Homo sapiens: one gene and its partner. The protein of the gene in region 1 interacts with the protein of each later gene in a pairwise test. Each region holds a gene or a part of one and is shown in the gene's direction. Other genes may lie near its edges.

The links.
Region 2: the proteins of GRK6 (region 1) and ITGA5 interact in a two-hybrid assay, tested with the Homo sapiens proteins (one large-scale study listed by BioGRID and IntAct).

What each region holds. Positions count from the first base shown.
Region 1 is NC_000005.10:177,439,758-177,443,619, forward strand, and holds the end of GRK6 (G protein-coupled receptor kinase 6), read left to right. Parts: intron 1-156; exon of another isoform or gene 157-274; intron 275-942; coding exon 943-1,080; intron 1,081-1,161; coding exon 1,162-1,296; intron 1,297-1,487; coding exon of another isoform or gene 1,488-1,493; exon of another isoform or gene 1,494-1,596; intron 1,597-1,977; coding exon of another isoform or gene 1,978-1,979; coding exon 1,980-2,033; coding exon of another isoform or gene 2,034-2,070; 3' UTR 2,071-3,134; downstream 3,135-3,862.
Region 2 is NC_000012.12:54,405,767-54,409,379, reverse strand, and holds part of ITGA5 (integrin alpha-5 precursor), read left to right. Parts: intron 1-27; coding exon 28-148; intron 149-425; coding exon 426-487; intron 488-578; coding exon 579-624; intron 625-1,144; coding exon 1,145-1,270; intron 1,271-1,503; coding exon 1,504-1,548; intron 1,549-1,687; coding exon 1,688-1,731; intron 1,732-1,873; exon of another isoform or gene 1,874-1,983; intron 1,984-3,453; coding exon 3,454-3,510; intron 3,511-3,613.

The sequences.
Region 1 (3,862 bases):
CTATGGCATCACATAGTATGTGATCCTCTGTGCCTGGCTTCTTTCACTTAGCATAGTATCTTCAAGGTTCATCCATGTTGTAGCATAGATCAGTGCTTCATACCTTTTTAAGGCTGAATAATATTCCATTGCATGGATAGACCACATTTTCCTTACCTGTTCGTCAGTTGGTAGACATTAAGATTGTTCCCACTTTTTGGCTGTTATTGCTGCTGTGAACATTCCTGTACAAGTTTTTGTGTGTGCAGATGCCGCCATTTCTCTTGGTCTATACCTAGGAGTAGAATTACTAGGTCATATGGTAATGATGTTTAAGCTTTTGGGGAACTGCCAGACTGTTTTCCAAAGCAGCTGTACCATTTTACATGACAATGATTTTAATTGACATCTTAATTGAAGGATTTAGAAAACAATGTTAAGATAAAAAAAGAAGGTGGCCGCCTGGAGCTGAGGTGGGCTCCCAGTGTGGGTCTGGGGAGGTGGAGCAGTGGGAGACCGTGCCAGTCCTCTGATTGGCTGGGAGAGAAGACGGCAAGTCCCAGGTCATCGCAGGGCGGGGAGCCAGGGAGTCACCAGCTCCAGGCTCTGCGTGGTGGTGCCCAGCGGAGGGGCCGGCTGAGATTCAGCCTGTACTCCCCGCCCCAACTGCATACCCAGGAAGCTGTGGGCAGGCGAAGGAGGTGCCTGGCATTGGCCTTTACACAGCCTCACAGTCATTGAGCAGTGAGGAATAACGTACGCAGTTCACAGAGGGGAAAACCAGGCTTCGGAGAGAAGGGCCTGCCCCACTTAGGAAGTGCGTGGGGCACCTGGTTTCTCCAAATCAGAGAGCTGCTGGTGTCAGGCAGCACTAGGCCAAGACCCGAGGCAGAATCAGGGCTGAGCTGCCTTCGCGTGTGCGTGTGTGTGTTTCCTATCTGACCGTTGCCTCTGTCCCACCAGCCCCAGGCCATTTACTGCAAGGATGTTCTGGACATTGAACAGTTCTCTACGGTCAAGGGCGTGGAGCTGGAGCCTACCGACCAGGACTTCTACCAGAAGTTTGCCACAGGCAGTGTGCCCATCCCCTGGCAGAACGAGGTGGGGGCCTGCCCTGCTGGTGGGGTGGGCTCCAGGAGGCTGCCCTGGGGACAGCTGTCACAGCCGCCTGCTCCTCAGCAGATGGTGGAGACCGAGTGCTTCCAAGAGCTGAATGTCTTTGGGCTGGATGGCTCAGTTCCCCCAGACCTGGACTGGAAGGGCCAGCCACCTGCACCTCCTAAAAAGGGACTGCTGCAGAGACTCTTCAGTCGCCAAGTAAGCCCCAGCAGCGGCCTACCTGGGCCCCTAACCTGGCTCCAGGGGACGGTGGGTGGGAGGCAGAGCCGGTGCCCGCATGCGCTGGGAGTGGGCGTCCTCCAGTCCTGTTGTGGTGCCCAGGGTCTCTGGCCTCATTCCCGCCTGTCCCCCACCCCTGGCTGGGCTCATGGCCTCTTTTCTCTTTCCAGAGGTGAGCAGTGTGGGCTCCCCGTGGGTTGGCCTTGCTGCCTGGCCTCGGGGAGCCACGGGCAGCCCTTCCATGGCAAAGGCAAGATGTGGGAGAAAGAAGTCTGGTGCCCGCCCCACTCCCCCTGCCCACTGCTTTGATCCCCTGCACCCTGGCCCCTTCGAGCTGCCAGCTTTGCTTCGCTTGTCTCCCCGTGCCCTGTCTCTGCCAGCCCCAGGGGAGAGGGCTGGGCAGAGGCCTTGCCCTGGCAGACCGTGGGATCTACCCAGCCCCCTTACTTCAGTCTGTTGCCGGCAGCCTCTGCAATGACGCCCACCCACGTGTGGCCTGAGCTGCTGCTCCAGGCTCCTTGTGGAGAGGCCCCTCCCCAGAGTGCACCCCTCAGGCAGCTCCTGGCCTGCCCTGGCAGGGTCGGCCCCATGTGACGTCCCTCGTGGTTAATGGCACCTGCTCTGCCTCTCTCCCTCCCTCCGTGTCTTCCCCGTCCCTCCAGGATTGCTGTGGAAACTGCAGCGACAGCGAGGAAGAGCTCCCCACCCGCCTCTAGCCCCCAGCCCGAGGCCCCCACCAGCAGTTGGCGGTAGCAGCTACTCCGAGCGCCGTTTACAGTTTTGCACAGTGATCTTCCCCATTGTCCACTCAAGTCGTGGCCTGGGGAACACAGACGGAGCTGTCCCCAGTGTCCTCCGTCCCTCAGCCCCTGGCCTGGCTGAGTTTGGCAGGGCCTGGGCCATCCCTGGGACAAAGGTGCGTCCCTTCAGCTCTTCTCCGTGGAGCTCGGGGCTTTCTGTATTTATGTATTTGTACGAATGTATATAGCGACCAGAGCATTCTTAATTCCCGCCGCAGACCTGGCGCCCCCGCCTTGGCTCCTGGGGGCAGCCAGCCCTGGCTGGGAGAGCGGGAGCTGGCAGAGGAGCCACTGCCAAACTCAAGGCTCCTCTGGCCCAGCTTGGATGGCTGAGGGTGGTCACACCCCTGAGCCTTCAGCACTGTGCTGGCCACCCCGGCCTCTGAGTAAGACTCGTGCCTCCCCCTGCTGCCCTGGGCTCAGGCTGCTACCCTCTGGGGCCCAAAGCTGTCCCTTCTCAGTGCTTGTCAGCGCTGGGTCTGGGGCCTCTGTATGCCCTAGGCCTGTGCCAAAGTGGCCAGAGATTGGGCTGCCTGTGATACCCATCAGCCCACTGCCCCGGCCGGCCCAGATAGGTCTGCCTCTGCCTTCCAGCTCCCACAGCCTGGTCCCTGATACTGGGCTCTGTCCTGCAGACACCTCTTTCAGAAACGCCCAAGCCCAGCCCCTAGGAGGGGGTGGGGCATCCCTGGTCAACCCTCAAACATTCCGGACTCCCCTCATAACAATAGACACATGTGCCCAGCAATAATCCGCCCCTTCCTGTGTGCGCCTGTGGGGTGCGTGCGCGCGCGTGTGTACCTGTGTGGGTGAAGGGGATAGGGCGAGGCTGTGCCTGTGCCCCAGGTCCCAGCCCTGGCCCTTCCCAGACTGTGATGGCCATCCTGGTCCCAGTGTTAGGGTAGCATGGGATTACAGGGCCCTGTTTTTTCCATATTTAAAGCCAATTTTTATTACTCGTTTTGTCCAACGTAAGCTGCCACATGTCTCTGTGTGAATAGTCCGAGCACAAACCTGGCTAGCCGCCCCTGCCTGCCTCTTTCTTGCTTCCGGTGCTCCAGGGGTCTTCCTGCTCCCCTGGCCCAGCTGGAAGCGGGAAGGGATTGGAGGTGGGCCTGGAGGGAAGCAGGGTGTGCCCTTCCGAGGCCCAGGAGCCCCCAGGGCTGACTCTGAACTAGCCTCTCCAGACAGCCAGGCTTTGGTAGCCTTTGGGCTCACCCAGTGGGTTTCCCAACTTCCTAAATGGGATGGGGCCTAAGGAAAGAAGCCTTGGGTACCCACTGGGATGTGGGTCTGTTTCTGACTGCTGGTAAGGCGGGCCCCGTTGGTGTCCTCCCCTCCAAGGCTAAGGTGGCCTGGCTGCCTAAATGTGGACGTAAGAGTAGGGTGGGAGCTGTGTAAGGAATGTCTGCCCCAGGCCTGCGTTACCTGGACGCCAGCCATGTACGGGCCCCGGGCTGAGGCACGTGCATCATATCCACCCCTCTGTTTTGCCCTTGACACATTATGGGCAAAGACCTAGACAGTGGGTGACGCTGGCAGATAGGCTGTGGCCAGTGTGGGAGAGTTCTCTGAAGACGGTGGTTGAGCCGGCCTCGAAGTGGACATTCACCTGGGAGGAAGGGGGACTGGGAGGCACTCAAGGGGAGCTTCCTGCCTGGGCTCTGGGGCTGAGAGCTTGTTGCCTACCAGTCTGTCCCAGATCTGGCAACCCCATCACTGCTCTATAGACTCCCAGTGTCCCC
Region 2 (3,613 bases), on another chromosome or scaffold:
AAGGCCCCTCCTCCTGGGCCCTCCCAGGCATGCGCTCCACTGTACAGCTGGCGCACAGAGAAGGAGCCACTGAGCGACCCCGTGGGCACCTGCTACCTCTCCACAGATAACTTCACCCGAATTCTGGAGTATGCACCCTGCCGCTCAGGTAGGGGCAAGAGGGGGCCTGTGCCCCATGTCTGCCTTCTCATATACTTGAAGTGTCTCACATACTTAGGGTTGACTCGCACCTACCATGTGCCCCCATGAGGTTCTAGGTTGCTTAAGATAAAGGCTAACCCAGTTCGTTAGCCTTTATGCTTACTGTCTGGTCCAGGAAGGCCCTTTCTCTGGTTCTCTCTCCCACCTCCTTCCCTATGCCCTCTCTTCTTTCCTGGATGACCCATCTATGCAGGGCTCATTTTCACCACCTTCTCCCCTCACAGATTTCAGCTGGGCAGCAGGACAGGGTTACTGCCAAGGAGGCTTCAGTGCCGAGTTCACCAAGGTGAGAGAGTGGTCTGGGAGAGAAGGGGCCGTGGGTGGTGGACATGGGGGGATTGGGACCAGATGTTGGACTCCCCTCCTTTCACCCACAGACTGGCCGTGTGGTTTTAGGTGGACCAGGAAGCTATTTCTGGCAAGGTAAGTCCTGTCTCTGCCATTCTTTTTTTTTTTTTTTTTTTTTTTTGAGACGAAGTCTCACTCTGTCACCCAGGCTGGAGTGCAGTGGCACAACCTCTGCTGCCCAGGTTCAAGCGATTCTCCTGCCTCAGCCTCCCAAGTAGCTGGGATTACAGGCGCCTGCCACCGCGCCTGGCTAATTTTTGTAATTTTAGTAGAGAAGGGGTTTCACCATCTTGGCCAGGCTGGTCTTGGACTCCTGACCTCGTGATCCACCCCTCTTGGCCTCTCAAAGTGCTGGGATTATAGGCATGAGCCGCCGCGCCCTGCCTGTTTCTGCCATTCTTTAAGTCCCCTGGCACATAGCCTCCCACCCTACTCCCAATTCTCCTCTTCCTTTCCTGAAGCTTACATGCCACCACCCTCCCCATGCTTCCCTTTCTTGAACCAGACTTCTGAAATACTACCCAGTCAGCCCCCAGAGTCCCAAGCCCCCTCTGCCACTTCCTCTCCATCTACTCCCTCTTCATACTCTCTCCAGGCCAGATCCTGTCTGCCACTCAGGAGCAGATTGCAGAATCTTATTACCCCGAGTACCTGATCAACCTGGTTCAGGGGCAGCTGCAGACTCGCCAGGCCAGTTCCATCTATGATGACAGCTACCTAGGTGAGCAAGCAAGTGGGGAAGGGATGGCAGAGGGAGAACCTCAAGTGCTCCTGTCCCCACTCACCCCCTCGCCTCCCCTCTCCTACTCAGGCATCCCCAGCACCCCTGCCATACTTGTCATGTGCCTGCTGACTATGAAGGCCCAGTAGGGGTGGGGAAGGGATTGGTGGATAGGCCAGAGCAGAGGGGTCCTCAAAGCAGGAATCCTAACATCCACCCACCCTGTCCCCCAGGATACTCTGTGGCTGTTGGTGAATTCAGTGGTGATGACACAGAAGGTGAGTGTGTCCCCAGGCTGGGGCCAAGGGAGGGGGATGGTTAGAGGCACAGGGCCAGAGAGCCCATGAACTTGGCCACTTACCATTATCTGCTTCCCTTTCCCCACCCTTAGGTCACAACTTTCTCTTCTCTTTGCAGACTTTGTTGCTGGTGTGCCCAAAGGGAACCTCACTTACGGCTATGTAAGACCCAGCCTGACCCCTCACTTCCTCTCCTCCCCTGCCTAATCACAAAGAACCGTGCATGGCAGTTTGCAAGGGCTCAAAAAGGTGGATCAGAACATGGGCTCTGGAGGCAGACTGGCATTCAAGTTCTGGCACTTACTCTGGCAGAATCATTCTGCTCTTTATTCATACTCTGCTTCCTGCTGAACCTCTCTGAGCCTTCTTCTTCTCTGTATACTGGGATAACAATCGTTCTGACCTCACGAGGCTCTGGCAAGGATGAAATGAGAAAATGCATGTGAAAGTACTCAGTGAATTGTTAGGCAATGTACAACTGGCAGATGTTATTATTAGACCAGGACAAGTGCTTTTTAAAAGATACAGATAAGAGTGCCATCGGATTTCATTCAATTAACAACATTTATTAAGGCAAGGTAAGAGATAAGATGAATAAGGTATCATACCCCATCTTATAAGATGCTTCTAATCAAGTATGTTAGATAAGACACACATACAATTATGATCTAAAGTGGAGCAACTATTCATTCTCTACTCAGTGCATCAGGCACTATCTATTCATGATTTCTATTCTTCACAACAAGCCTATGGGGTAGATATTATCATCTGTATTTTGCATATGAGAACACTGAGGTTCTAAGAGACCAAGTAAGTTGCTTAAGATCACCCAGTTAGTAAGTAGGTTTAAAATCAGGTCTCTCTTAATCCAAAATCAGCATTCTTTCTGCATTTTGGTAAACTTCAGCAAAGTGGATACAGTGGCATAGCAGTTTAGGGGAAAGAATAATCTCCTTTCTAGGAAAAGGATGGTAACAAGTTTGGGGAGTCAGGAAATAAAAATTTTAAATTTTTAAAAAGGAAGAGGACAGATGAGAGAAGGTTCTATGAAGGTTCAGCAGAGATGAGGCAGGAGGGCATCCTGTGCAGGAGCATGAATGAGGTGGAAGAAAAGGAAACAATTTCAGCCCAACTTAGCAGACTCATGAGCTGATTGAGGATGAGTAGAATATGGAAAGGTTGAGCAAAAACAGATAGGTTAGGGCCAGATTCTCCAGAGCTTTGGAGGACCAGCCAAGAAGTTGAGACTTTGGGCAGTGACTGCAGGGGGCCACTGGATTTCCAAGCCAGAGGTAGCCTCCTAGATCTGCTGGGAGAGCTGGAGGCAGGGACATTGTCAAGACATCTGTCCAGCAGTCCTGGGAAAGGGCTCACACCAGGATTCAAGAGGCCTGGTGGGGCCAGTCACTAAGGGAATATAGGGGAGAAATGGTGTTTGTGGTTCGGGGGACTGGAGGATGAGGATGACTTAGGTTTTGAACGTGATGGGTTTGAGGCACCAGCACACATTCAGTCATAATTATTATTGAGTGCCTACTACTCACCAAGCATGACTTTAGGTTCTGAGGAGAAAGCAAAGAACAAAATCAAGTTCCTGCCCCTATTGATCTTACATTCTAGTGGGTAGAGAGGGACAACGAACAGATAAATACAAAATCTGTCAGTGGTTGGTGATTGATAGGGAGAAAAATAGTGAAGCAGACATAGGGTGGAACTACCTGGCATAGAGGTGGGAATATGAGGGCAAAGCTGAAGAGGGAGCTAGGGACAGTGGTCTGCGTCTCTAAGGAATGCCTGCCCCTGGGTGTCCTGTACACATCTGTTCTTTAACCATGGGATATTCTGGGAGTCCAGGACCAATGGGCCTATCTCTTCATCTCCCAGGTCACCATCCTTAATGGCTCAGACATTCGATCCCTCTACAACTTCTCAGGGGAACAGGTAAGGATACCCCTCAACCCCACCCCAGCTTGGCCTCTGTCAACGAAGCCCCAGCCCTGACCTAATAATGTCAGCCCAACTTCCCAGCCCCTCTTGATCCTGT